4 linked regions of the Homo sapiens genome follow. The protein of the gene in region 3 interacts with the protein of the main gene of each other region in a biochemical or structural test. Each region holds a gene or a part of one and is shown on either strand. Other genes may lie near its edges.

Evidence for each region.
Region 1: the proteins of ERG (region 3) and DNAJA4 form a complex in vitro, tested with the Homo sapiens proteins (one study listed by BioGRID).
Region 2: the proteins of ERG (region 3) and DNAJA1 form a complex in vitro, tested with the Homo sapiens proteins (one study listed by BioGRID).
Region 4: the proteins of ERG (region 3) and NFIC form a complex in vitro, tested with the Homo sapiens proteins (one study listed by BioGRID).

The regions. Positions count from the first base shown.
Region 1 is NC_000015.10:78,259,606-78,267,590, forward strand, and holds the start of DNAJA4 (dnaJ homolog subfamily A member 4), read left to right. Parts: upstream 1-4,956; 5' UTR 4,957-5,151; coding exon of another isoform or gene 5,152-5,158; coding exon 5,159-5,290; intron 5,291-5,875; coding exon of another isoform or gene 5,876-5,929; exon of another isoform or gene 5,930-6,032; intron 6,033-6,612; exon of another isoform or gene 6,613-6,637; coding exon of another isoform or gene 6,638-6,688; exon of another isoform or gene 6,689-7,985.
Region 2 is NC_000009.12:33,035,251-33,040,414, forward strand, and holds the end of DNAJA1 (dnaJ homolog subfamily A member 1), read left to right. Parts: intron 1-1,323; coding exon 1,324-1,439; intron 1,440-1,764; coding exon 1,765-1,865; intron 1,866-3,434; coding exon 3,435-3,653; 3' UTR 3,654-4,657; downstream 4,658-5,164.
Region 3 is NC_000021.9:38,488,458-38,495,486, reverse strand, and holds part of ERG (transcriptional regulator ERG), read left to right. Parts: intron 1-7,029. UniProt on the Homo sapiens protein: Transcriptional regulator. May participate in transcriptional regulation through the recruitment of SETDB1 histone methyltransferase and subsequent modification of local chromatin structure.
Region 4 is NC_000019.10:3,460,578-3,467,606, forward strand, and holds part of NFIC (nuclear factor 1 C-type), read left to right. Parts: intron 1-2,174; coding exon 2,175-2,192; 3' UTR 2,193-7,029.

The sequences.
Region 1 (7,985 bases), on a different chromosome or scaffold from region 3:
CTGAGCTCCTCGAGGACAGGCATAACCTTAATCTAGTGCTGTATTGTTGGTTCCCAGCACAGAGCCAGACACATAGCTGCTGTGCACAAATCCTGTTGTGATGAAATCAATAAATTTCATCGTGAGAACACGTGCTTTCTGCACATGGTAAGCCCTTTACACATTGTCTCCATTCATCTGTACAATAATTCTGTGAAGCAGATGTTCTTATCCCCATTTTGCAAAGGAGGAAATGGATGTTCAGAGAAAGCTAATTTGCCCAGGGTCACACAGCCAGTGAGGGGCAAGGCCTCTCCAAGTGGAAATCCCTCCCAATATTAAAACAATGGCCTGAAATGACAACTGCTGTTTCGGGGGCCAATAAATTAATGTCCTCCCCTTGAAGTACTGGTCCCCCCCATTCCCAGCCTCTCTGCCACCCAGGCACTGTCTCCTCTACCCCTCGCTGCTCTGGCCTTGCATGATTTTGGTCCTCTCTGCTTTCTGGGTTCTCCTCTTGCTTCTCCGATGGCTGTTGCTCCTTCCACTTCCTAAAGACAGGCGCTCCCCAACGCTTTTCCTTGGAGCTCTCTTTCTCCTTCTATGCCCTCTCTCTGGGCTTGCCTCTACAAACCGGCATGCCCAGCTTGGGCCTCTCCCAGGAGGTCCAGATCCACCCAGCCCCCGGGGTCTGCTGCTAGTTACACCTCTCAGAACGCAGGTCCTGCTCTGAAACCTTCAATGGCTCCCCAGGGCCCAGGAGAGCAGCAAACTGCTCCTCAAGGCATTCAAGGCTCTAGCACACCTGTCCCTGCTTCCCTTCCAATTCAGAGCCTTCATCCATCTGTGCTCTCTGCCTTTATCCTGCTGTCCGTTCAGCATGGCTGCCCTCCCTTTCCCTGCTGCTAAAGGGAGCTCTAACTTCCTGGTCTATGGCACATGTCCCTCGTCCATGAAGTCCTTCCTGACCCCCCTCCCCAGGTAGGTGTGGCTTCTCCCTCTCAGAAGACTCCTTGAAGACCCCATCCCAGCATTCCTTGGGTAAAACCTACTTCCGTGCTTGCTTTGACTCTCCTTCTACACTGGGTCAGAAAGGAAGCCCCACACTGCATCAAGGGACAATGGCTGTTCTGTATAATGTGGCTTCTTTGTCTAAAAGTCTCCCCAACTGTAGAATGAGATGGTAGAACTGGATCAGCATTTCCCAAATTTCTGTCATTCAAGTATCACCACTGTTGCTTTATTCTTGTACTACAGGTACTATCATACACTTACTATTTATCTACTCTTTTTTAAAAGAATATAAAAAGGAAACCATACATTGCTTACTGTGAGTGGAAAGTCAGTGTCACTTTTAATAAAAGTTGCAGTAATGAAAAGGTCATCATGAAAATAAACACATAACTGACAAAATAAGAAATGTCTGTGTAATGCCTCCAATCCTCCCAAGCATAATTCTGGGAAATAATCTACTAGATTGTCAGAGGCTTTGTCTAAGATAAACAAAGCTGAACAGTAGTTAAAATTGTAAGGACAGAATTTAATCAGTCATAACTATTGCAATAGGGAAAACAATCTAGTATGAACTGAGCTCAATATCGATTTGTACGAAAAGTAATTGGGCATTTTGAAAAGAACATGAGGGAATAGGGAGAAGGACAAGCAGCAGTTTAACAGAATCAGGGAAGTGAAAAATGACAAAGGGTTGGTCAGTGTAAGTGACATTAGGCCAGCTGTGTCTGCTAGCTGCCAATTGCCAAAGTTAGGATGCCGTTCTCCCAAAGAGACTGGGAGACAGAAGCTCTATCCTCAGGTGTTGGATGAAACAAAAACACAGTAAATATTTTGGCAGCCTTGAGTTTTCTCAGGCAGGCACTTTAAGAGGGGGTAGTGGGGCCAGGGTCACCTTAGGTAGGGGCCCCCAACTCCTAGGCTGCGGACCAGTACTGGTCTGTGGCCTGTCAGGAACCAAGCAGTGGCATTAGATTCTCACAGGAGCTTGAAATCTGCTGTGAACTGTGCATGCGGGGGATCTAGGTTGCATGCTCCTTATAAGAATCTAACGCCTGATGATCTAAGGTGGAACAGTTTCATCCTCCATTTTTTTTTCTTTTTTGAGATAGAGTCTTTCTCTGTTGCCCAGGCTGGCATGCAGTAGCACAGTCTCAGCTCACTGCAACCTCTGCCTCCCGGGTTTAAGTGATTCTCCTATTTCAGCCTCCTGAGTAGCTGGGATTACAGGCACGTGCCACCACACCTGGCTAATTTTTGTATTTTTAGTAGAGACGGGGTTTCACCATGTTGGCCAGGCTGGTCTCAAACTCTTGAGCTCAAGTGATCTGCCCACTTCGACCTCCCAAAGTGCTGGGATTACAGGCCTGAGCCACCACACCTGGCCAAAAATATCTGATTTTACTAGACAATCCTATTGTTATTTATTTTTTATTTTTTGAGACAGAGTCTTGCTCTGTCACCCAGGCTGGAGTGCAGTGGTGTGATCTCAGCTCACTGCAGCCTCTGCCTCCCGGGTTCAAGCGATTCTTGTGCCTCAGCCTCCTGAGTAGCTGGGATTACAGGCGAGCACCACCATCCCTGGCTAATTTTTGTATTTTTAGTAGAGATGGAGTTTCACCAAGTTGGCCAGACTGGTCTTGAACTCGTGGCCTCAAGTGATCTGCCCACCTCGGCGTCCCAAAGTGCTGGGATTACAGGTGTGAGCCACCACGCCAGGCCTTCATCATAGAATTATTGCCCACCCCCACCACCCTGTCCGTGACAAAATCGTCTTCCATGAAACTGGTCTCTGGTGCCAAAAAGCCTGGGAACTGGTGATCTTAAGGATGTGACGTTGAATTATTAGAAACTGTGTTGCTGTCTGTTCAGTCTTTATAGGCCAAGACTGAAGCCTAGTTGAGAAGAGGGCTCATAGGAGCCTGGCTAAGTTCCATCAAGAAGAGAATCACTATCAGCTTCTATACCTTAGCCCCTGCCCGCACCCCCCCACCCCCAAAAAGCATCAATATTGTGACTATATACCAGGTGTTTCACAAAGTTATGAAGTAGTTATAATTAATATCCTCATTAAAAGGTTAAGAAAACTGAGGCTCAGAAAGGTTAAGTTGTCTGCCCAAGGTTCCACAGCCAGAAGTAGCAGTGCTGGGATTTGAACCTAGGTCTAAGTCTCACTGGTTCCAGAATTCACTGTCGTCCAAAGTGCATAGCTCCATTCTATGTTTCTAGGCTCTGTCTTTAAGCCATCCCTCTCCTGCACATGCCCATTTTACGAATGCCTATGGTCCCGAGTACTAAATCTGGACAAGTATGTGACCCTGGGCAGTGGATCTCGGCTCTGGCTGTACCACCTGGGGAGCTTGAAAAACACTGATGCCTGGGCCTCACCCCTAGAAGCTCTAAGGTAACAGGTGTGGAGTGCAACCCAGAGGGATTTTTAGAAGATTCCAGGTGATCTCTGTCAGGAGCCAGGTTTGAGACCCACTGCGCTAGGAGTCTTCACAGTTATCATCCCATTTGATGCTTATAAGAGCCCTGTGAGAAAGGCAGGCAAGTGGCAATCCCCATGTCCTGCTGACGAAGAAAAGTGTTGAGATGCTAAGGCTCAGACAGTAAGATCTGGATAGAAAACAAAGTTTCTGACCTCTAGCTCTGAGTTCTCTGCCTAAAGGTTCTGCTCTACAAGGCATAATTTAAAAAAAAAAAAAGCAACATCTCCAAGAAGAGCAGCTTAATTTCTCTTGTACAGTACAAGTCACTTCTCACCCCCATGGAACACATGGAGGAGAGGTAGTACCTGCTTCAGCCACAGTACCCAAAACAAGGCCAGGGCATCCCAGGGAGGTGAGCAGTGACCCCCCTTTCTGACAAACTGTTCCCCTGGCAGAAGCCAAGGGAGGGCTAGGGGACAGGGGCCTGCAATTCTGTGATAGCGTTGGGGCCTGCTTTCCACGCCCACTTTTCTGCAACGGTTTGTGATCTGGACTCCCTGAGCACCCGTTGGGAGCTGGGGGCAGCCTAGGGAAGTCGGGACCTACTCCTGTACCCTTCCAAGGCAAGCATCCTGGGCCACCTAGCCGTTTCAGGGTCCAGGCCATGGGACCCCCTGTGCATAACACTGGGCCCAACAGCCTGGTCGGGCCCTGATGTTTGCTCACTGATGATGTGCAGAGGAGAGGGGGCAGTTTCCCACTTCTGGGAGAAGAGAGGGCACTGTCGGCCCTTGGCAGACTTGGGGGGCGTCACTGCCCATATGTGGGGGACGTCACTGCTCACCTTGAGGGACTTAAGGGTTCCCAGTGGTGGGCATTCGAGAGGATACTGTCCACATCTGGGGCCAGCAAAGGACCCCTGTACCTCAACTGGAAGGCCAGAGGTTCACCTCAGCCTTGCAGTCATGAGGCAGCAGAGGGCCCCTACCCACTCCAACCCCCTAAAAAATGCAACAATCCCAGGCACACCTTAGGCCGCAGCCTGGCTGTGACCGAACAGACGGCGGCCACACCCCCGGGGAGAGGCCGGGTGGGGACCGCAGGGCGCAGCTCTCCCAGTCCCACCCTTCGGCGCAGGGCTCCGGCCAACACAGCCCTCCAGGCCGCCTACTCTCCAGCCAGCCGGCTCCACGGACCCACGGAAGGGCAAGGGGGCGGCCTCGGGGCGGCGGGACAGTTGTCGGAGGGCGCCCTCCAGGCCCAAGCCGCCTTCTCCGGCCCCCGCCATGGCCCGGGGCGGCAGTCAGAGCTGGAGCTCCGGGGAATCAGACGGGCAGCCAAAGGAGCAGACGCCCGAGAAGCCCAGGTGAGCGGCTGGGCCGCGCCGGACGGGCGTCGGGGGTCTGGGCCGCGAACCCGCCGCGGGGCCGCCGGAACCTCCGCGAAGGTTCTAGGCCTTTGTGGCGTCACCGTCTCCTTGCGGAAGCTTCCGCCGGCGCCGAATAAAACCCGCCGCGGAGGAGCCGGTGGCTCTAGTGCGGTGGAGCCAGGCGTGGAAGTCGGTCCGGCGCGGGGCGGGGGGCGGGCGGGAGCTACAAGCGGCGGCGGCGGCGGCGACCGTGACCGTGACGCGCGAGCGGGCGGCGGGGGCGCGGGCCAGGGGCGCGGGCCAGGGTGCCGGCAGGGGCGTCCGGGGCGCTCTGACCGGCCTCGCCCGCCCCCCCCGCAGACACAAGATGGTGAAGGAGACCCAGTACTATGACATCCTGGGCGTGAAGCCCAGCGCGTCCCCGGAGGAGATCAAGAAGGCCTATCGGAAGCTGGCGCTCAAGTACCACCCGGACAAGAACCCGGATGAGGGCGAGAAGGTGCGGGGCGGCGCGGGGCACGGGCCGGGCTCCCGAGGGGCCAAGGGTTATTAAGCCAGGAGCATTGAAGGCGACGGGAAACCTGAGCCGCGTTTGTTGGGGAGGCTGTCGCCAGGCGCCTCGGGGCCAGGCCGGGCAGAGGTGGCGGGAGACCCTGGGCGCCGTGCGGCGCGGTCGGTGGAGGGCGCTTCGCCCGCGGAGGAGGCATGTGGTGCGGCACTTGGGTCCCTCGCGAGTCCCTGCCGAGCCCATTCATTCCTCCATTCGCTCCACAAGTGTTTGGGTAGCCCCTGCCGTGCGCGCCGGACTAGTTCTCATAGGGTGTGTTGGTTCCCTGTGGGAGAGGCGGCCTGGGAATCGGGAAACTGAGGCACACACAAACAGTTGTTTACTTGCTGGGAACGACTGGCTCATATTCTCTGTTGATGCATAAACCCTAGGGATGAGTGTCTTTAATCTGAGCTGGTACCTTGGACAAACGCCGTGCCTCTCTTGAGAATGACTAGCTGGATTTGTTCTGTGCACCTACTGCCTACCTGATAAAAGCGTCAGATAGTGAATAATCCCATTTTCTTTATTAAACAGGGACACGGACATCTGCAACCTGACATCAGCTTGTACTCATATTCTGGGTTTTCGGTGACAAGTGACACACAGTTGATCATAAGTACCAATCATAGACTGAAAATGCTCTGCATTTTAGAGACAGAAGTTAAAAGCTTTTCCATCCTGTTTACAGAAAGTTTGCTTTTTATCTCTAAAGAGGCTCATGACCCACCTGAATAGGTGAATTGAAGGATGAGGCATTGCAAGGAAAGGCTGCTAACCCTCCCGTTCCTCCTTTCACTTCTTGCCATTTTCTTACAAAACTTTGGTTGTTCCGCATGGGTCTTGAGAGGTGGGGCCGTTATAGTAGCTGATAGCAGTGTCACTTGGGCCACGTTTGAAACCACACCAATCACCCATGTAGCATTTAAGACCTGTGGAAACGACGCTGGAATCAAAATACCTGTCTGTGTTAGTTGTTCCAAGCTGGAGAAAGCTACTTCAGGACGGTTGGCTGAATGGCAACAGTGATGGAATATTTATATTTAGCCACATGTGCTGAATGTGGCTGTCACAAGTTTAAAATGCTTTCCTGTAAGACCATTTGTCTGTTACTCACTTGCGTTCTTTCTCATCTATATTTAGATGGCTTACTGTAGCTTTTAAAGGCACTGGCGTTTTACATGGTGCTGGTGATTCATCCACCTGCTCCCTACATTCATTGTGGTCCGCTTCTGACAGTCTCCTTTAAGGAGAGCTTGTAGGCTTCTAATTTCACATTTCAGCAAGCTGGCTAAAGACATGTGGGAAAGCCTGACCCTGGATTCAGGTCAAATCTCAGCACTCACAAGAGTAAGTTCATGCCTCTGTGTATACAGTTAGAGCTGAATATGCTTTTGTTCTGAAGCTTTTATTTTTAAAAAATTAGACTTGACCTGTACTACATATGTGTAGGTTTCACCCTGTCTATACCTGTCTGGGCAGGTTGTTTGGTTTGTTTTAAACTAATATTTATTCATAGCCAGGCACTGAGTTAGTGTCACATAAATGAGGCCCTTGGCAGTGAGGTCTGGCAGGCCCATCAGCTTGGAGGGAAGGGTTCTGTGATGTGCCCATTGCCAGGAATACTTTCCTTCCTCTACCTTCATGGAAGGGGATAAAACTCTTTAGTTCTCAGCTAAAACATCTTCCAGGAGGCTGCCTCTGCCTCATAGACTGAACCACAGGCCCAACGTGCATCCTACTTTAATGGTGATTACTTGTTTGATTAACTGTATTCCTTTAATGGTGATTACTTGTTTGATAACTGTATTACCTGCCATAATGTAAGCAGGGCAGTGACTGTGCCCCCATGGCCACTTATGGGGTGAGTATCTAGCTGTGCAGGGTAGGTGCTAAAATGTTTGTTAGCTGGCTGAGTAAATGCACTTTAAAAAATTGTGTGTAGGAGGAGAGGGCCCTATAAAGGCACAAATTGGAAGGGAAATTGCAGTGAAAGGGATATTGGGAGGAGAGTGGCAATTTAGATCGGAAATCAAAGAGGATGAGGAGACTGGGGACACAATTTATAGAAACGGCTGTAGAGTTCCCCAGAGAGAGCTCATTCATTCATTCATTCATTCATTCAACAAATACCTCCTCTTCTGGTCCCCACTGTGTGCTGGGTGCACTGTGCAGGCCTTTTGTGAGTGTGTATGTGAGTGTGTGTGTGAGTGTGTATGTGAGTGTGTGAGTGTGTGAGTGTGTGTGTGAGTGTGTATGTGAGTGTGTATGTGTGTGTAGTTCTTTTCCACTTTATCACAGGTAGAACCTTTAAATTTTTTTTTCCTCCTAAGTTCGTCACTGTATTATTAACGTCTCTTCAAAAATAGACTACACCAGTTCTTTACCCCTTGCTGGGAAAACTGAGAAGGCCGTTGAAATGTTGGTCTTTGTTTTTTGCCCTGTTGTCCCCTGTTGCTAAGCATTGGGGCACCTTGTGTTTTTTGGGCACTCTGTATGGAGTCTGTACTTCTCTGCGGGTGTTTTTTTTTTGTTTTTTGTTTTTTTTGCAAGATGCATGGGTGGTAGGTAGTGGGTCACCAAGATAGTCCCTTTTAGGGGCAATGATGTGGGGTATATTCTTGGCTATTACCCTGTTGAGATGAGT
Region 2 (5,164 bases), on a different chromosome or scaffold from region 3:
GTGGCAGGCCCTGAGGCAGGAGAATCACTTGAACACAGGAGGCAGAGGTCGCGGTGAGTTGAGATGGCGCCATTGCACTCCAGCCTGGGCAAAAAGAGCAAAACTTGGTCTCAAAAAAAAAGACTAATATTTTACAAATGTCTGAAGATAATGGGAAATGTTGTCAAGCTCAGGCTTTTGATGCTGTCATTTGAGAAGGGTATTAAAGATGTTTTATTTATTTATTTATTTTTTTTGAGATGCAGTTTCGCTCAACAGGCCCAGGCTGGATTGCGATGGTGAGATCTTGGCTCACTGCAACCTCCAACTCCCAGGTTCAAGCAATTCTCTCACCTCAGCCTCCCGAGTAGCTGGGATTACAGGCGCCCACCACCACGCCCAGCTGATTTTTGTATTTTTAGTAGAGACGGGTTTCACCATGTTGGCCAGGCTGGTATCGAACTCCTGACCTTAGGCAATCCACCTGCCTCGGCCTCCCAAAGTGCTGGGATTACAGGCATGAGCCACCGCGCCCAGCCTAAAGATGTTTTATTAATGTGGGTTGGAAAAGGAAAGTCTAAGCATGAGAAGGAGGAAGTGGGCTGTTAACGTTAAATATGAAAGGCTGTGTTCACTCACAATATGCCAGGAAATATTATTTCAGGTTCATCAATGAGGAAATTGTTAGAGTCCCTTTAAATTGGACATATCCTCATTGTTTAATTTCATAGAGCCTAAATTATCTAGGACCCTGCCCAGGCTAGAGTGCAGTGGCACGATCTCAACTCACTGCAATCTCTGCCTCCAGATTCAAGTGATTCTCCTGCCTCAGCCTCCCGAGTAGCTGGAACTACAGGTGCGCGCCACCATGCCTGGCTGATTTTTTGTATTTTTAGTAGAGATGGGGTTTCACCATGTTGGCCAGGCTGGTCTTGAACTTCAGACCTTAGGTGATCCACCCTCCTCAGCCTCCCAAACTGCTGGAATTACAGATGCGAACCACAGTGCCTGGCCTAACCCTCACTCTTGTGAGTTGTTTTTTTTTTTTCCCCTCTGAGAAACCAGATTTAAAACTAGGTAATGAAACAGTTCACTGATGGTAAATGGTAAAGGCTGCCTAGAGTGTGTGGAATGACTTTGAATCCTTAACTAGGAAACGGGGCTGGCAGGTTGCACATGTTTGCTCTTCCCAGATCTCTGCTCTGCTTGATTTTTACAATGGGGGAAGAAAAGGGTGTCTTTGTAAAAGACCCTTTGCTTTTATTAAACAAAAAAACAGCCTGCTTTGGTACATCTACTGATTCGTGATTTGAAAAATATAAATATGTGTCATATTTTATGCAGACGAGGAGAAGACCTTTTCATGTGTATGGACATACAGCTCGTTGAAGCACTGTGTGGCTTCCAGAAGCCAATATCTACTCTTGACAACCGAACCATCGTCATCACCTCTCATCCAGGTATGGGAACTAGGCAAGCTTAAACTTCTCTTTTCTATTCTAGTATTTTCCTTGTCTCCTGTTAACAAAGTGTAGTATAGGCACTGAGGGAAACCCATTGTTTTTCTTTCTCGGTTACATATCCTTCTCTGGGCTTAGATGAAGTTATAAGGTCTTGGCTCTCTTGTCAGCCCTTGGAAAACCCATAAGTGAAAGGTAACAGGATTGCTTTGCCACGTAAGTTTTACTCCTGCCAATGAGCTAGGACAGTGCTCTGTTCTTTATATTCCCTGCCTCATAAAAATGTGACCATACTTAAGGAAGAACTTGGCTTCAATGTTTTTAGGTCAGATTGTCAAGCATGGAGATATCAAGTGTGTACTAAATGAAGGCATGCCAATTTATCGTAGACCATATGAAAAGGGTCGCCTAATCATCGAATTTAAGGTAAGCTGTAATGTACTTTAAGAATACTTGAGAACAATTGGCTTACTAAAATCTGATAAAAAAGTAAAATTTCAGCCAGGTGCAAGTAGCTCATGCCTGTAATCCCCGCATTTTGAGAGGCTGAGGCAGGAGGATCCCTTGAGCCCTGGAGTTTTGAGAACAGCCTGGGCAACATAGTGAAACCCTGTCTCTTTAAAAAAACAAAAAAAAAAAAAAATTAAAATTTCTGAATGCCTCAGAACCTGAAACTTACATTTTTCCACAGCAAGAAATATATGGATCTGGCCACGTGCCACTGGCACACACCTATAATCCCAGTGCTTTGGGAGGCCAAGACAGGTGGATTGCTTGAGCTCAGGAGTTAAAGGCCAGCCTGGGCAACATGGCAAAACCCCATCTCTACAAAAAGTACAAAAATTAGCCAGGCATGGTGGCACACACCTGTAGTCCCAGCTACTCGGGAGGCTGAGGTGGGAGGATTGCTTGAGCCTAGGTGGTCAAGGCTGCAGTGAATCAAGATCGTGTCACTGTACTTCAACCTGGGTGACAGAATGAGACCCTGTCTCAAAAAAAGAAAAAAGAAAATTTACCTAATAACTACTTCTGTCATGTTGAGCATTCTTTGTTAACAAGTTGAGGATGGGGTTTTTTGCATCATTAATTGGATATTTAAAGATAGGTTGTGGGAAGGGTGTGTGGGACAAGTGGGTATTTTACTAATGAAAGGTTGTAACTGGCATCTTAAAGTTGAGAGGTGCTTTATAATAATTGCAGATTTCTTGGCAAAATAGTGTAATGCTTGATTTGTTAATAGGTATAAAGCAATCCAGTCATTTTCCTGAGTCTTAAATTGGCCTGTCACCATAAAAATATTAATTAAAACTTTTTTTTTTTTTTTTCCTTTTTGAGACGGGAGTCTTGTTCTGTCACCCAAGGTGGAGTGCAGTGGTGCGATCCTGGATCACTGTAACCTCCACCTCCTGGGTTCAAGCAGTTCTCCTGCCTCAGCCTCCTGAGTAGCTGGGAATACAGGTGCCCGCCACCACGCTGGGCTTTTTAGTAGAGATGGGGTTTCACCATATTGGCCAGGCTGGTCTCAAACTCTTGACCTCAGGTGATCTGCCCATCTCAGCTTCCCAAAGTGTTGGGATTTGTAATCCCAATTGTATGAGCCACCGCGCCTGGCCTAAAAACATCTTTGGTAAGGAAGAACTACCCTTTTGAGAGTAAGAATAGCTTTGTTTAAATATGTCGTAAGAAGGGTTAGGCTGTTGCAGGATGGGTTTTGGTATTAAAAAGTCAGTTTGCTGGATAGAACAATGGTTGTTAAAGTGCAGTTTTATTTAATACAATCATTTTTAATAAAGCCTGACTTCTGGTCATAATCCTTGAACTCTAGTTCAGAGTGTGCTATGCACTGTGCCTTTTTAGAGCCTGTTCTAACCTGAGATTGGCAGATTCACCTAAATATTACGTGTTTACATGTGTTTTTCTGGGGAAAATGGGTCCATGATACTCTAAGGGAGCTAATGATGAAATCAGATTGAACAGTGAAAGTTTCTTTTGAAGGTAAACTTTCCTGAGAATGGCTTTCTCTCTCCTGATAAACTGTCTTTGCTGGAAAAACTCCTACCCGAGAGGAAGGAAGTGGAAGAGACTGATGAGATGGACCAAGTAGAACTGGTGGACTTTGATCCAAATCAGGAAAGACGGCGCCACTACAATGGAGAAGCATATGAGGATGATGAACATCATCCCAGAGGTGGTGTTCAGTGTCAGACCTCTTAATGGGCCAGTGAATAACACTCACTGCTGGCATTTAATGTGCAGTAGTGAATGAGTGAAGGACTGTAATCATAATATGCTCACTACTTGCTCTTGTTTTTGTTTTAATAAACTATAGTAGTGTTTTAAAAAGTTAAATGAAGAATAAACGCAAATATAAAAGCTCTGATTTTGCCCTGTATGTATGATGACTTCAGTGTGCAAGATGAAGTTTAATACCTGTAAAAACTACAAAGAAGTTCCCCTAGCATTTCTAGGCCAAACCTTGTAATTGACTTCAGCTATGTACGTGGACAAGCTTAGACTGAAATGCTAGGTATATGTATTGGCTTCAGTGTATGACCCTTCATTGTTAAGCTATGAAAGTAAAACTCTGTATTTAACTGGCAATGAGGAAAAAAAAATTTTGTAGAGAAGTGTTGGTCTGTATAGTTCTTTATATTAAGTGGGATTCATTGTAATGCCTCTGCATTTATTCTGTTGCCTCAGCTGTTACTTGAAGATGGCGTAATATATAATTTATCCTGTGGTATCAGTGATAAAAATGATACCTTTCTGTAGGAGGGGTTTATCATAATATGCTGCTTCTTGAAGGCTTGCACTTCCAGAATTGTGTTTCCTTCTGCTGTGCCATTCATATATATATACATATATATATATAATCTTGACCAGTCCTGGTCATTTGCTCCCCTCCTTGTCTGTGGACCATGATAAGCCCAAGTAGTGACTTCAGAGCTGGGTAACAGAAATTAAAGTGAAAAGACCTTTACGTGGAGAATTTGCATGCGTAATATAGGAAGGTGTTCTTTAGGTATGTTACAGGATTACTTTAAACCATTTGACTTTCGCTCCAAAGTTATGTTGGTAGTATAGCAAATTATGATGAATAGCTTTAATTGTATGTTTAAAAGTCTCATATGTTCACATGCTTAAATCTGGGTATCAGAATTTAAGCAATTCTTGAAATGTATTGTCTCCTTAATATACTAATTACAAAGCATCTCCAATGTGTGTCACTACAGGCTTTTTTTTCCCAGATCATCAAATTTTGGCTTTTAACTAAGATACATAGCTTTATTTTAGCTAGTCTGAATGAGTGATACAAAAATACTATTGAACTATAGTTAAATAATATTAAATAGGATGGAGAGTAAAAGTGGAGGACTGGGTAATGAGCCAAGAAGAAGGGGACTTAGAAAACTGCAAACATTGGAGTGAGCATGAGAGAACAAGTTCTCATAAAGAATACAAGTTTAAAAAGGAGAAAAACTTTAAAAAATAAGGTTCCCAAACCATCAGTGTTTGTCAACTTCCTTTTAGTCTGTGCCAGCCACCCACAGCTACCCTAAAGTTGGAGATGTGAAGCAGATGTTCAGGAAAGTATAATTGATCGGTGTTCAAAAAAGTGCTTTGTGACAGATTTCACTTTTCACTGGGTTTATGTACAAATTCTAAAAATCTCTGAACCTGTATTTTAATGCATTTAAGAGCATTGTTTAGGCCAGGCATGGTGG
Region 3 (7,029 bases):
CAGCAGCCGGCAGCAGCATCAGGGGAAAGCATCTTAAAAATCAGACAGGACATGGAAAGTTACTAACAAGGCTTGGTGGAGACCTGAGGGCACCCTAGTGCTATTTCCATGACTTGCCTAAAGAAGTTACTTTTTTTTGAATTAACAGAGGTTGGAAGGTTTGATGGTAATTGAAACACGACCTGATAGGACTCAATTTTATTAATTTAAAGACATAAAGCTTGCATTATATACGCCACGTCTGCACATTTGCACTTCTTGAACGTTTGCTATCACATGTGAGGGAAACTTAATTAAGACTAAGAGTTATATGAAGAAAGTTAACTCCTCACAGAATTTTGATGGATGTGATTAATGAGTTTAATAGCTACAGATTTATGATTTTTCATCAACCTGTTGGCTAAGTGAAATACGAATTGCGTCAGTCCTTGTTACTTTAGGGGGATTCCGGGAGAATGGAAGGAAGGCCAGGGGCAAAATGCCGCTGCCCTGCTGTGCATAAGTCATTTCAGAGCATGCTCTGAGTGTTTGTCCTTGCCGAAAAGTGGCTTTACAGGCAACTACTTTAAAACAACTTGCTGCTTCCGTTCTTGGTCAGCTCTGTGATCCAGGCTGCCCTCTGTGGACACAGCACAGTTCTCCCTGGCCCTCTGCCTGTGTGTGCATGCACCCATGCATGCCAGGCACCCTGACTCAGTGACCCTGGAAAGCAGGATTGAGAATGGCTCCATCTGTGGGCTTTTCTTCCCCCATGAAATACAGTGCAGGACTGCAATGCTCTCAGACAATGTGCTGAGCCTGAACCATTTCTTAATTATCTACGTTTATAAGTGATTATCTCATAAAGTTTTTGTTTTGCAAAACAGATCTTTATTTAAACACAAACACAGGTTAACAACTCTTGAAAAAGCATACATAAAAATAAGTAAATGAAACAACCATTTCTGTTGTCTTCAGGAAAATATGACTGATACATTTAGAACTTTAGAATAAGATTCCCTCTGTGGGAGTGGAGACCCAAAGCCATTATAGGCATCCCAACAATTTGGCGGATTTATTGGTTTAACAGCTGATACATAAGAGAATCACAGAGTAAGGGCCATGGGGAAGCCAGACGGATGAGAGTTTCTCTGAAATGAGAAACCTCAGAGAAGAGACAGGGACAGTCTCCAGGCTGTTCCAGCGTTTGGTAGCACACTGTGCTCTGGCGGGGTCTTTTCTTTGGAGCTACCTCAAGGAGAGCCTTCTTGTCCCCTCCTTTGACCCCACAGGATAGAGGACAACTGCTCCCTGGCCTGGGGATTCTGTCAGACCACCCCTGATAGCGCTTCTCTCACCTTACGTGGCCGCAGACACACTTGCATTTGCTTCCTTCCTGTTGTGACCCTGGGCAAGGTAGCTAGCCTGTCTGATCTCAGTTTCGTCACCTGTAAAATGGGATCATAATGGCTACCCTGTCTCGCACCCATCCTCAATAAATGGCAGATGCCATCAGACGCCCCCCCGCGGATGTAACCTTTTCTACCGTATTGTCTTTCAGGCTCTGCACTCACTCGTCTCAACATTTCCCACGGCCCAGCTTCAGCTGTGAAGCCCACAGCCATAGACTGCTCTGATGTGCGGCCTCCCACACCCAGGCAGGGTACATCTGGGTCTGGGCAGCCACAGGACAGGGAAGGAAGGAGGAGGGAGCTTGCAGGGGTGCTTGTTAAAGGTGTAGCAGGGCAGGTACCACACACAGGGGCAGGTGGAGCGTCCAGGGGTCGCCCGAGGTGGTGCTGGTCAGAGAGGGTTGGCTTCGTCCTGTTCTGAGCCGAGGCTGCTGGAGGAGGGCAGAGGCCTATGACTGCATCGTGCTCCTGGTTAGGGCAGGAACAGCACCCTGGAATACCCCACTCTCCTCTTTACTCCTGAATTACAAAAAATACATCTTGTTCTTTAGCATAAATTATAAACATAAAAAATTCTTATGGTAGAGAAAACGTTTAAAAGTCATCACAAAGTCAATATAAATTGTTCAGATCCTAACCAACCACAGCAAATTCCTAACAATTGGGATATGTCTCTCCACCGTGTGTATCTGTTTGGCCTTGTATCTACCTACCTGTCCTGCTCTTCTCAGTTAGCATTGTTTTACAAGCATTTTCCCATGTTACTAACATTTTTTGATAAGCAAAATTTTTGTTTCATTATATTCTATCTAAAATATGTATTACCATTTTATAACCAATATCCTAGTGTATAAAGTGATGCTGCTTGCGATGTTTCACTCATTATATTGCAGTACACCATCTATTTAATTTTTTGAATACTTTTTATTAGTATTGGTGCCTAGAAAGGAATTATTGAGCCAATGGGTATATATATTTTTTAAGTCTTTGCCAAATTTAAATATTTGCCAATTTAAAAAATAATTACCAGATTATTCTCTGGAAGGATTATACCAGTTCTCCCTTTTTCTAGCCACATATGAGACCAGTTCCACACTACACCCATAACAACTCTGAATATTTTACTCTTTGAATCTTTGCCATTCTGACAGATAAGAACAGAATCTCATTTTTATTTGTACTTCTTTAATTTTAGTATTTCATTACATTTTTTTGTTTGTTTGCTGTGAACCCATTTTGGCTAGTGGTCCACTGTGACCTCTGGATTTTTTTTCTTATTTATACTTTTATTCTCTGTTTGGTCTAGCTTACTTTCCACATATTTCCCCTACTGAGCTTGGCCAAGACATGTTTTATAAAATTTCACATCGATTCCCATCTGTCCACTCTCCCACTCTTCATTTTCTTTCCTGTCAGCACATTCTCCCAGCTTTGCTTGTGTTTGTTGTTGAGTGTGAATAATTTATGTATACCCACTGATATCGCAGAAGCTGTTTTTAGTGATATCTTATCCATTTCTTCTGTGTCCTCAACAGTGACTGGCAAAGAGTAGAGGTTCAATAAGCACTTGTTGAAAACATAAACTTAAATTTTAATTATTTGAAATCATAAAGAGGAAGTTAAGATATCAGAGTAATGTAATTATCATTGTAGACTTCAAATAGAATTCTTATGTTTTTAGAGACATTTCTCCTAGTAAAATAACGTTAATTAAAATTGACTTAAATTGATGTTTAAGAAAGTATAAAAAATGTAGCTGTAGTATCTTGAATTCATAATCCAAACTAACATCATCCTAATAACTGCTTGTTATGTGCCAAGTCCTGTGCTAAACTCTCATAATGTCTCATGTGATCCTCACAGCAGCCTGGGTACTGCTGCTTTCTTACAGATAAGGACAAAGGATTAGAGAGGCGAAGTATCTTATACAAGTCACACAAATCTGTCTCCCTTCTCTTTATCATCTGATCTCTTTTTTCCTGCTATTCACCCTAGCTGTACATAGTGAATTACTGTGCAGAGAAACATGATGTATTAAGTGTTATGGAGACACATGAAATAATTGGATAATGAAAATTATTATCGCTGGTTACTTTATGTTATCTACTCTTCTGGGAAAAATCCCATAGGCAGCAATTCTTATACTCTAGGTGGCTAATCAAAACAAAGTTCTAGAAAATTCAAGAGGTAAAACTCTAGCACTGAATTCTATATTTGCTCAGTGACAAGAATTCTTTCCATATTTGGCGAGATCCAAGGGGCAGTGCTTCCAGATTCCAGATCAGCTGCTGATTTAAATTTCCTCATCCCAAGTATCAACTTCCTTGCACTCGTCTTGGGCGTCAATAATGAACACGCAGGTCAGAGTTTTCCATAAGGCCTTAACAAGTCTTTCAGCAGGGTGTTCATGGAATTAAACTCTGGGAAGAACGGTAATCTGCTGTTGTACACAGATAAGTACAGAGACATTTTGAAAAGAAATGCTAAGGCCAAGCAAAATGATTTATTTTTAAAGTGCCACATCAGAATCCAATCATAACATTAACCTCAGGGCTGTTACTTTAAACACGTTTGGTAAAAACAATGCTTGTCGAATTTTTGAAAATATAATAACTTTATGCAAAGATCCCGCACTCTTGCATTTAACACATTCCACTTTTTAAATCCTTCTGCCTTGATGATTTAAAATCTCCCTTGCTGGTTTTTTTGTTTTTTAAATTTACCAAGTATTGATACAGAATCAGCACTGAAGACAGGACCCTTCTGCTACCTCCACATTCACATTCCCCCCAAGGCCATTCATTCAGATCGTCAGCCAGCAGTGAGTTTCTCATCTCCATGCTCTTTGGGTTTCATCGGGTTTTATTGGGTCTTTTTTTTTTTTTTTTTAATTTTGACAGTGTGCACATGATGCTCACCTTTGAGGAAGAAGAAACTGTTGAAACAACACTTTAGAATCTGTCAACACAATTAGTTTGTGTCTCAATTTGAGGTAGATGTCCCAAGACATTGCTCCAAGTTAAAAAGAAAAAAAAAGTATGTGGTTTTGCATTGCGTAGTCCTCTTTGGATCCATACGATATGTGTGCCTTCCCTGACCTTCCAGAGAGCATCAAAAACATGAAGGTTGAATCCAGAGAGCACAGCCCACTTTTATCTTTGGCCCAGGGAGGCACTTGGTACTCTGTATTTCTTCGTGGCATCCTTAAAATAGCCTCTGTGGAAAAGGGATTGGCCTTATCTTCCGTGCAACGGATGGGAGGCATAGATATAGCTGCTGGCAAGGGGAAGTGGAAAGAGGCCCATCTGGGAGAGGGTGGCCCGGAGCTTTAGTTTGATGCTGCAGGACTTCCCCAGGTGAACGCACCTCTCCTGGCCCTAGCTCCCTTATAGGAAAATGGAGGTGGTCAGCTCCGCCTTCTCCACAGTGACCATCTGCTGACTGTGCTGCTGCCAGGACGCAGGGGGAGCTAACAGCAGTGCCCCTATCGGATCTTCAAACCGGGGAGGGGTCTCGTGCAGTGGGCAGGGGAAATGGGCTCCCACCTGGCTTTTGGGGTTCACTCCCTGGCTGTTCTACTTCCTGGCCATTTCACCTTTGGCAAGCCACAGCCTCACAGGAGATAGGCTTTTCCATCGGTGAAATGGGTAGAGTGATAGTTCCTACTTCACAGGGTTATAGTGAGATTCACCAAGTCGCAAGAGCCCAGAACTGTATATGGCACACATAAGCTCCTCAATCAAAGTTAGTTAATTTTACTATTCATTCAAGCCAAATACATTTTTCTTCTAAGACTAAAATCAGGGAATCTATGAAAAGCATTTCCCCCTACCTTTTTTTTTTCAATTTCTACAACAGTTTGTGAATTGAATTTTGTTTTCAATTAGCCAATTTGTCCATTTTCCTGTGATGAACATGTTTTTATCTCTTCATTATAAAGTAAGAACTCTGACAGACACAGTGAGCTCCCAATTATTCACGAGCACCTGATCTGCATTGGAGATTGCTTAAAACAGGGCTGGGAAATGCTTGCTGGTGAGTTCACCGGACACTGCACAGCAGGTCCTGGAAGGAGACATTCAGGGCGTTGTTAACTTCTGTGTCTCCCTATTCTTCTTATTCTCCTTCCATACTCTTTCTCTCTCATTGCAATCGCTATCCACCTGGAAGGCGGCTTGAAAAACACAAAAGACAACAAGGATGATGAGGGGGACCCCTCCTGAGCCTCTTAAATGCTGAGGGATCCTTCCTGGACCTGTTTTTATTCATTCCAAGCTGCCTCTCCTAGACAATCACTTCTCTTACCCCAGGAAATCTGGGACGGTGCAGGTTTGCAAGCTTGATCTGGAATAAAGAAACAAAGGAAAAGACGGACCAGGAGGCTTGGCCTACGCCAGGCAAAAGTCAGCAAAAGCAGCCACTACACATCTCCTTTTGAGTTCTAACTTTTCACTTTGTCTTGTGTGAACTCCTAAACTGGAAGCATATTTATAGTCACGTAAAAATAAGAATATTGTCCAAGGCCAAATGTAAGTGACTTTTATGAGTTATTGGACTTTGTGAATTACTCATTCTACCAACCTGAATTAACATAGATAGTTTTGTTGACTTTACCTTCTTTGTAAGCCAAACAGTATGAACTCGGTTAAGCCGGTCTTAGGAGAAAAGACATAAAATGTGTGTTGCTAGGATAGCATTCTAGTGAAGGAAGCCACTTCTTTGTTTCTTGTGCATCCCTGTGAGGGTACCTCTGTCCATCCCAAGAGCTGTTTTCATGGACTCACTGTTGAAAGCCCAAGCCTATTGTAACCAATTTTGATAAGCTGGTTACAAAATAAGCACATGTATACATTTTTTAAAGCCTTGTTCTTCTGGAGATGGAAAACATCTTTTTTTAGATCACATGTTTACTGCTTTGGTAAACAGTAAAATGCTGCTACAGCAATTACCTTGAGGATAAAGGGTTTGTAGACAGATACTTCCTGCGTTCACTTCCTACACAGATAGCCAGCCCAACCAGAGACGCACTGATGCAGGAAGGGCTCCCAGTGGAAACTTCCTCTCTCCGAATGCGTGGTCCATTATTCGTTATCTCCTCTCCAAGGGGAATAAGCTTGTTGCTCCAGATTTTCTAGGAGAATTCTGTCTTGAAACAGGTAAAAATATAAAGTTTCTAAAGTAATGATTACAGTACCTCGTTCTCATCCTCGGTGTCATCTACTCGGTGATTTTTAAGGGGACGTGATTAGACTAGAATAGACTTGTCTATGAGTAACATGCCCCGTAGGCACCTCTGTCTCCTTTGAATCATGGAAAATGATGCATAATTCGAATGTTTTTATATTTGGTAGAAAAATAAGTCTCTTTGAGATTCAATGGAAGGCCTTTTCTATGGTTAGTTGAAAGGTCATTTTAGATTTTGCTTTCTTTAGTCAAGCAGAGATTACCAGATTTGGGTACAAAAAATATCAGCTCACAGATTGTTCTCTGTGCTGATTTTACAGCAGTTACTAAATTCCAACGAATGCATTGTTTAGGCCCTTTGAACCGAAGCAAATAAAACCACAGTGCACACACACTAAACAATAGGGCATCATCAATTAGCCATCTACAGGATGTGTCCTTGCAGACTGGCCCC
Region 4 (7,029 bases), on a different chromosome or scaffold from region 3:
ATCTTGGCTGACTACAACCTCCGCCCCCTGGATTCAGACGATTCTGCTGCCTCAGCCTCCCGAGTAGCTGGGATTACAGGCACGTGCCACCACGCCTGGCTAATTTTTGTATTTTTAGTAGAGACAGGGTTTCACCATGTTGGCCAGGCTGGTCTCGAACCCCTGACCTCAGGTGATCCACCCACCTTGGTCTCCCAAAGTACTGGGATTACAGGCATGAGCCACCGAGCCCAGCCTCTTGTTTACTTTTTAAAAACATTCTCAAGGCCATGTGCAGTGGCTCATGCCTATAATCCCAGCACTTTGGGAGGCCAAAGCAAACGAATAAGCTGAGGTCAGGAGTTTGAGACCAGCCTGGCCAACATGGAGAAACCCCGTTTCTACCAAAAATACAAAAATTAGCTGGGTGTGATGGCGCATGCGTGTAATCCTAGCTACTCGGGAGGCTGAGGCAAGAAAATCACTTGAACCCGGGAGGCAGAGGTTGCAGTGAGCCAAGATCGTGCCACTGCACTCCAGCCTGGTGACAAGAGCGTGACGCTGTCTCAAAAAATCAACAAAAAACCTCTTTATAAAGTGAACAAGGCAGCTGATGTGGTGGCTCATGTCTGTAATCCTAGCACTTTGGGAGGAAGGAGTTCAAGGCCAGCCTGGTCTACATGGCGAAACCCCACCTCTACAAAAAAAAAAAAAAAACTAGTCAGATGTGGTGGAACATACCTGTGGTCCCAGCTACTCGGGAGGCTGAGGTGGGAGGATCACTTGAGCCCAGGAGATGGAGGCTGCAGTGAGCTATGATGGCACCACTGCACTCCAGCCTGGGCAACGGAGCAAGACCCTGTCTCAAAATAAAATAATAAATTGGCTGGCCACAGTGGCTCACGCCTGTAATCCCAGCACTTTGGGAGGCCAAGGTGGGCGGATCACTTGAGGCCAGGAATTCAAGACCAGCCCGGCCAACATGGCGAAACCCGGTCTCTACTAAGAATACAAAAATTAGCTGGGTGTGGTGGGGCGGGCCTGTAATCCCAGCTACTTGGGAGGCTAAGGCACAAGGATCACTTGAACCCAGGAAGCGGAGGTTGTAGAGAGCCAAGATCACACCACTGCATTCCAGCCTGGGCAACAGAGCAAGACTCTGTCTCATAAATAAATAATAAATAGAGAAGAAAATAATTTTTAAAATATAAAATAAAGGCCAGGCAGAGTGGCTCACGCCTGTAATCCCAGCACTTTGGGAGGCCGAGGCGGGCGGATCACGAGGTCAAGAGAGTGAGACCATCCTGGCCAACATGGTGAAACCCTGTCTCTACTAAAAATATAAAAATTAGCTGAGTGTGGTGGCATGCGCCTGTAATCCCAGCTACTCGGGAGGCTGAGGCAGGAGAATCACTTGAACCTGGGAGGCAGAGGTTGCAATGAGCCGAGATCATGCCACTGCACTCCAGCCTGGCAACAGAGCGAGACTCTGTCTCAATAAATAAATAAATAATATAATATAATAAAGTAAGATTGAGTTCCAGACTGGGAGTGCTGGCTCACACCTGTAATTCCAGCACTTTGGGAGGCCGAGGAAGGTGGATCACTTGAGGTCAGGCGTTTGAGACCAGCCTGGCCAACATGGTGAAACCCCATCTCTACTAAAAATACAAAAATTATCCAGGTGTGGCGGTGGACGCCTGTAATCCCAGCTACTCGGGAGGCTGAGGTAGGAGAATTGCTTGAACCCAGGAGGCAGAGGTTGTAGTGAGCCAATATCACGCCATTGCACTCCAGCCTGGGCAACAAGAGCGAAACTCCATCTCAAAAAATAAAATAATAAATAAAATATAAAATACAGTTCCAGATAAATGGATCTTTTGTGTGTGGTGTGTAAGTATATCCCCAATGTTGCGTGGGCTAGACTTATACTAAAAGAATTCTGTGTTAACCAGAACTCCAGTTTCACTGGGCATCCTGTACTGTGTCTGGAAGCCTCCCTCAGAGACAAAGTCACTTGCCATGGGTCACCCAGCAGGTTGTTAGAGCCTGGGATGGGGAAACTGAGGTCACAGGGTTGCAGGAGGTGGGGGGTGAGCGTGGGAAGAGGTAAACCATGTCTGCAGCAGAGTCTGACCCCTCGACTTCTCTCCCTTTTTCTCTCTCCCTCTTTCTGTCGCCACTGGGCCACTCAGTCCTGGTATCTGGGATAGCAAAGGTCTTCTTCCCTCGCCCCTTCTCCATCGTCCCAGGAATCCCAGGGGGCAGCACAGCCGGCCCCCGGCCCACGTTTTCGGTGGAAAATTAGAGTGAACAAGAACACCCCTGCCGACTCCCAGCCCGGCCAAAAAGACAAAACACATAGACGCACACACTCAGGAGGAAAAGAAAAAACAAAGGCAGAAGAAGAAGAAGAAGAAATAAAAACCCACCCAAGCAAGAAGACAAAAGGTAAAGACGCAACGTTTCCAACTCTCGGGACGCCAAGGCCGCAGGACTGGAGGGCCAGGCCCCGCCACCCCCACGGGAGACCCGGGACAGGGCGTCTTCCTAAGTTATTCATCTCCTCTCCGCCTGCTGCTCGGGAAGGACAGACGCCGGCCGCCCGCCCGCGCCCCGGAGGCCCTGGCTCTGTCCGGAGACCAGGTGAGCACAGCCTGGAGCCTGTGCCCAGGGCCGACAGGCGCGACACCCAGCAAGGCCACCTCTCCCCGGGCCCCCGCGCCTCTGCCGGACACGGACCGGCCCCTCAGCCCCCACCGAGGACGCAGCCACTGGGGGGAAAGGGAGACACAGCGGACCCCGGCCGGGCAGCGGAGACCGCAGAGGCGGGCAGGGTGGGGCAGGCGAGTGGTGTCGCGGGGGTGCGTGGCGCTTGCGAGCCCTGGCCAGGGGAGGAAGTGAGGCCCAGGCACCTGCTGCCCCTCGAGGGGGCCCTGCCTGCCGCGGGGCCTCCCCACAAGCCCCTCCCAAAGCGCCGGCCGACTCGCTGTCTCGCTGGGGACTCTTTCAGCCCTCGCGCCCGCCCGTTTGGGAGGAGAAGTCTCTATGCAATTGGCCCCGGCCCCTCCACCCCCCACCCCCGGCATAGGAGGCCCCCCCACCTCGCCCGGCTCACACCCCCAAAGGGAGGGACCCACATTGCACACACTGTAAGAAATGCACTTTCCGAGGAAGGGGATGGGGGAGCCCGGACACCCAGAGCTCCCCGAGTTGGGGGTGCCCGTCTGGAGCGCCCCCGTCAGCCCCTGGCGGTGGGAGGTGAGAGCGAGTGGTTTAAGTGCCTGATTACCACCACCCGCCCCCCCCTTTGTCCAGCTGGGACACGGAATGGCCGCGGGCCTCCTCCCCCTCCCCTCCAGCCTCTCCACCAGCCCCTCCAGTCAACCCTCATCGCCGTGCCCCCCCAGAGCTAGAGAGATGGGGCCCCTGCGTGGCCCGAGGGGCAGAGCTGGGCGTCACTTCGCAAGCGTCCTGCCCTGCCGGGGCGCGGGGGTGGGCTCTGGGGAAGCCGGTGCGCCCCCCACGCCTCCGCTGCCAGTGCCTTACATTCTGGAGCGACCCCCCTCCCTGGTGCCTCCCAGCGAAGGGGGACCGCCGTTTGCACTTTCATCGCCTACCCCGACGCGGGGCCCAGCTGCGGGACGTGCATCACGGCTGGGCCCCCAGAGGAGAGAGGAGGCCGACGCCAGCGGTCCCCGCTCGGAACGGGGAGGGTTTTCGGGGGGTTCGGCGTCGCACCTTGGGGCCCCCCGCAGCCGTGTAGGGGGCCTCCCATCTGCTAAGCGTTTTTCCGTTGAGCCGCTCCAAAAACACTAAGCTGGGGACGCCAGGTGCCCCCCCACCCCGGCTCCCTGGCCCTATCCACACCTCCACCCCCACCCCAGGATCGCCATCTTTAGGGGAGGCCTGGGAGGGGGTGTTAGGTGTTTTAGGGCCACCGAGCTCAAACACAAGGACCCCTCCCCGGCCCACCCAGCCCAGCCCCAACTGACCTCCATGCCTAGGGAAAAACTCCCCCCACCACTGCCCCCTCCCCCGACCCAGGCCAAAGCCAGGGCAGGTCTCCGGGTCTCACCTGCTCCTAGCCTCACCCCCCTGCCCCCGAAAACCAGACTCTCCTCCCAAACTAGCCTCAGGAGCTTGGCGAACCCGCTCGCTCCTAAAGAGAAAGACCCAGGACCCTCCCCCATCACCCCCAAGAGAGGTTCGCCATCCTCTGGCCTCGAGCCCTTGGTCCCTCCGTCCGTCTGTCCTCGGGGCCCGCTCCCCCGGTGGCCCTTGGGGATCAAAGCGTGGGCCGCTCTCCGGGAGGGCGGGCGGGGGAGGGGGTGGTCGGGTTGTGCCATTGGGGTGTCCGGAAGCTTCTCAGCCAGGGTGGGGGTCGTGGAGTGGGGGAGGGAGGCCAGCCGGGCTCCAGAGGGGTCAGGGCGCGACGAGAACCAACTCTTTACCTAACTTTGCATGGTGCTTAGTCAAGGACTCCTGCGACCTGGCTCCCGAGGTCAGCTGGCGGCGCTGACACACATGCATGGCAGACTATCCCTGGCTCTATCTCCCTGTTCCTCGCCCCCTCCACCCCCCACTTCCTCTTTAAAAAAAAAAAAAAAAAAAAAAAGATACAAGAAAAACCTTTAAAAAAATTCCATGTTTCCTAATTTGCACGAAATTTTCTACCACAAGATGTGCCTTGCCTTCCGAGAATAAGTATTACCTTTAAACAATATCAGCGCACACACATAGCTGCATGTTCTGCTCGTGTAGTTTAAAAAAAAAAAGACAAAACAGTGACATGAAATAAAAAATAAAAATTGAAAAGGGATGTATTTCTATTTGTAAAAAAAATAAAATAAAAAATAAGAAAGTGAGAATCTAAAAAAAAAAAAAAAAAAAAAAAAGGAAGAAAAACCACGCTAAAAATCAAGCCACTGAAAACAATTGCCCCCAGGTCTACCCAGCCCCTGGCTGTCCTTGGTCCTGTCTCCCCTCCTGCTGTATTCAGGGGTGCCCCCTGGTGCTCAGCCTCTACCACCCCCAACCCTGCTCTTGGGTACCCAGAGGGGTCATTTCTGAATCCCTTGCCCAGAGGACAGACCTCCGGGGCCCATCTTGGCCCTGGGAAAGGGCTCTCCTCTCTGATTGGTCCCTAGGCCACGGGCCGGCCCCCAGACACCATTCACCGACCCACTGCAGGCTGTCCTCCAACCATGGGGTGGCCACTCCACCCGCAGCCAGACTCCCCGCTCCCCACTTTTCATGCAGGCTGGCATACCCCTGGCTCAGGGTCAAATGCTGTTCCACACCCACCTCAGAGGCACCCCCTCTCCCCTGCCCCGTGCATCCCCACCCTTCTTGCCAAAGGACCTCTTTTCCCCTATCCAGAGACCACCCCAGGTGGCATTCTCTCCCACCTTCTCCTTTGTCCCCCATCCCCTGTCTCTGTCTTCCAGCTGTGAATATGAAGGGTATCCTGTATGAAACAAAAACAAAACCTGATATATGCAATATCTGTCTGTCTGTCTGTACCCATGGGCCTGGCTCAGCCATTGGAGGCCCAGCCGAGGGTCCGGCAGGGCACAGGGACAGCCAGGTGGCACCGAGTCACAGGCTGTGGTCCGGTGGCTGAGCATGCTGTTGTCTTGTCCTTGATTTTATTTTCTTTTGTTCTTTTTTTTTTTCTTTTCTTTTTGTTTTTAACTCCAGCTTCCTTTGCTTTTTACTTGACCAAAGCTAAGACAATAGCCAGATGGTTAGTGGGGCAGCCAGGCAGGGAGGACCCAGGGCTGGGATTCTCCAACCTTAGGCCATTCCTGCAGCCCTCACCACCTCCAGCCCCTCCAAGCATCTCGTGTAGGGACCCACGCAGATGGTCCCATTCATTCACTATTGCCCCCAACCCCGGGATTTTGGGTGGTCTCCACAGCCACCATCATACACTCATCCCGTGTTTTCTTCCAAAAAGTCACCTCAGCAGCCTCCCCAGGCGATACAGAGGGAGAGCCCAGACCACCACAGCTGGCCACGACATTGCCCTTAAGTAATATGCATTGGCCAGAGAGCCCGGGCTGGCTGTGCACAGCATTCATGTAGCTGATTTCTAGCTTTTTTTTTTTTTCTGCCCCACTCCTGAGCAAATCTGTCTTGCCAAGGAACTAGGAGCAACCGGAGGCAAAGGGAGTGGGTGGCCCCATCACTATTGGGACCATCGCGTCCCTGCACAGCCCACACCCGGGGGCCCAGAGTCCTGGGCTGGACGCCACCCTTCTCACCCCGAGCTTGCCTCCTTGGCTCACTTGGCACCTTGGCTGAGTACAGCAGGCAAAAGCCCATACCAGGCAGCATGTTGTGGATGGTTTAGTTCTCCCCGCCTCCCTGTTTCTTGGAAAAGCTACAGGGTCCCTGTAGGGCAAAATTCCCAGGCGCCTTGCTGCAGACAGAGTAAGACAAAAACACCAGGAAGCAGGATTCCGTGCCCATCTCTGCAGTTTGGGTTCACAAAAGGGGGTGCCGTCATCCCTGGGTGGAGGAGGGAGTGTTGGTTTTTTGTTTTTGTTTTTTTAACATGTATGAAACTGACATCTTCTCAAATCTTGTTCCACCCCCCTCTGGAAGCCCCCATCACCCACCCCTGCTATGGACACCACACCTATGCCAGGCCCCCCCCCCCACCCCAGTCTCATTCTGGGGTCTGCCCATGCTGTGGGAAAGAATAGGGAGGCCTCCCAAATATATGCAAATTGTCCCCATTCCGTGGGGGCACCTGACAATGACCCGGGTGGAGATGGGGCATGGAGGAGTAGGAAGACCCAGCCCTATTTGACTGGGGAGAGGAGGATCTGGAGTCCTTCATGCCCAGGTCTGGAACCCAGGTTCTGACCCCAGGGCCCCACCCTGGGCTGGACAATCAGATCCCAAAGGAATGCCAAAGGGGACTCGGTTGGGAGAGCCGCTTAGGGGCCAGACCTGGGTCCCCCTGCAGGTCCCCAGGCAGCAGACAATTCCACCTTCCCTGCCCCAGGACCTTGAGAGACAGCAGCATTCCAGGCACAG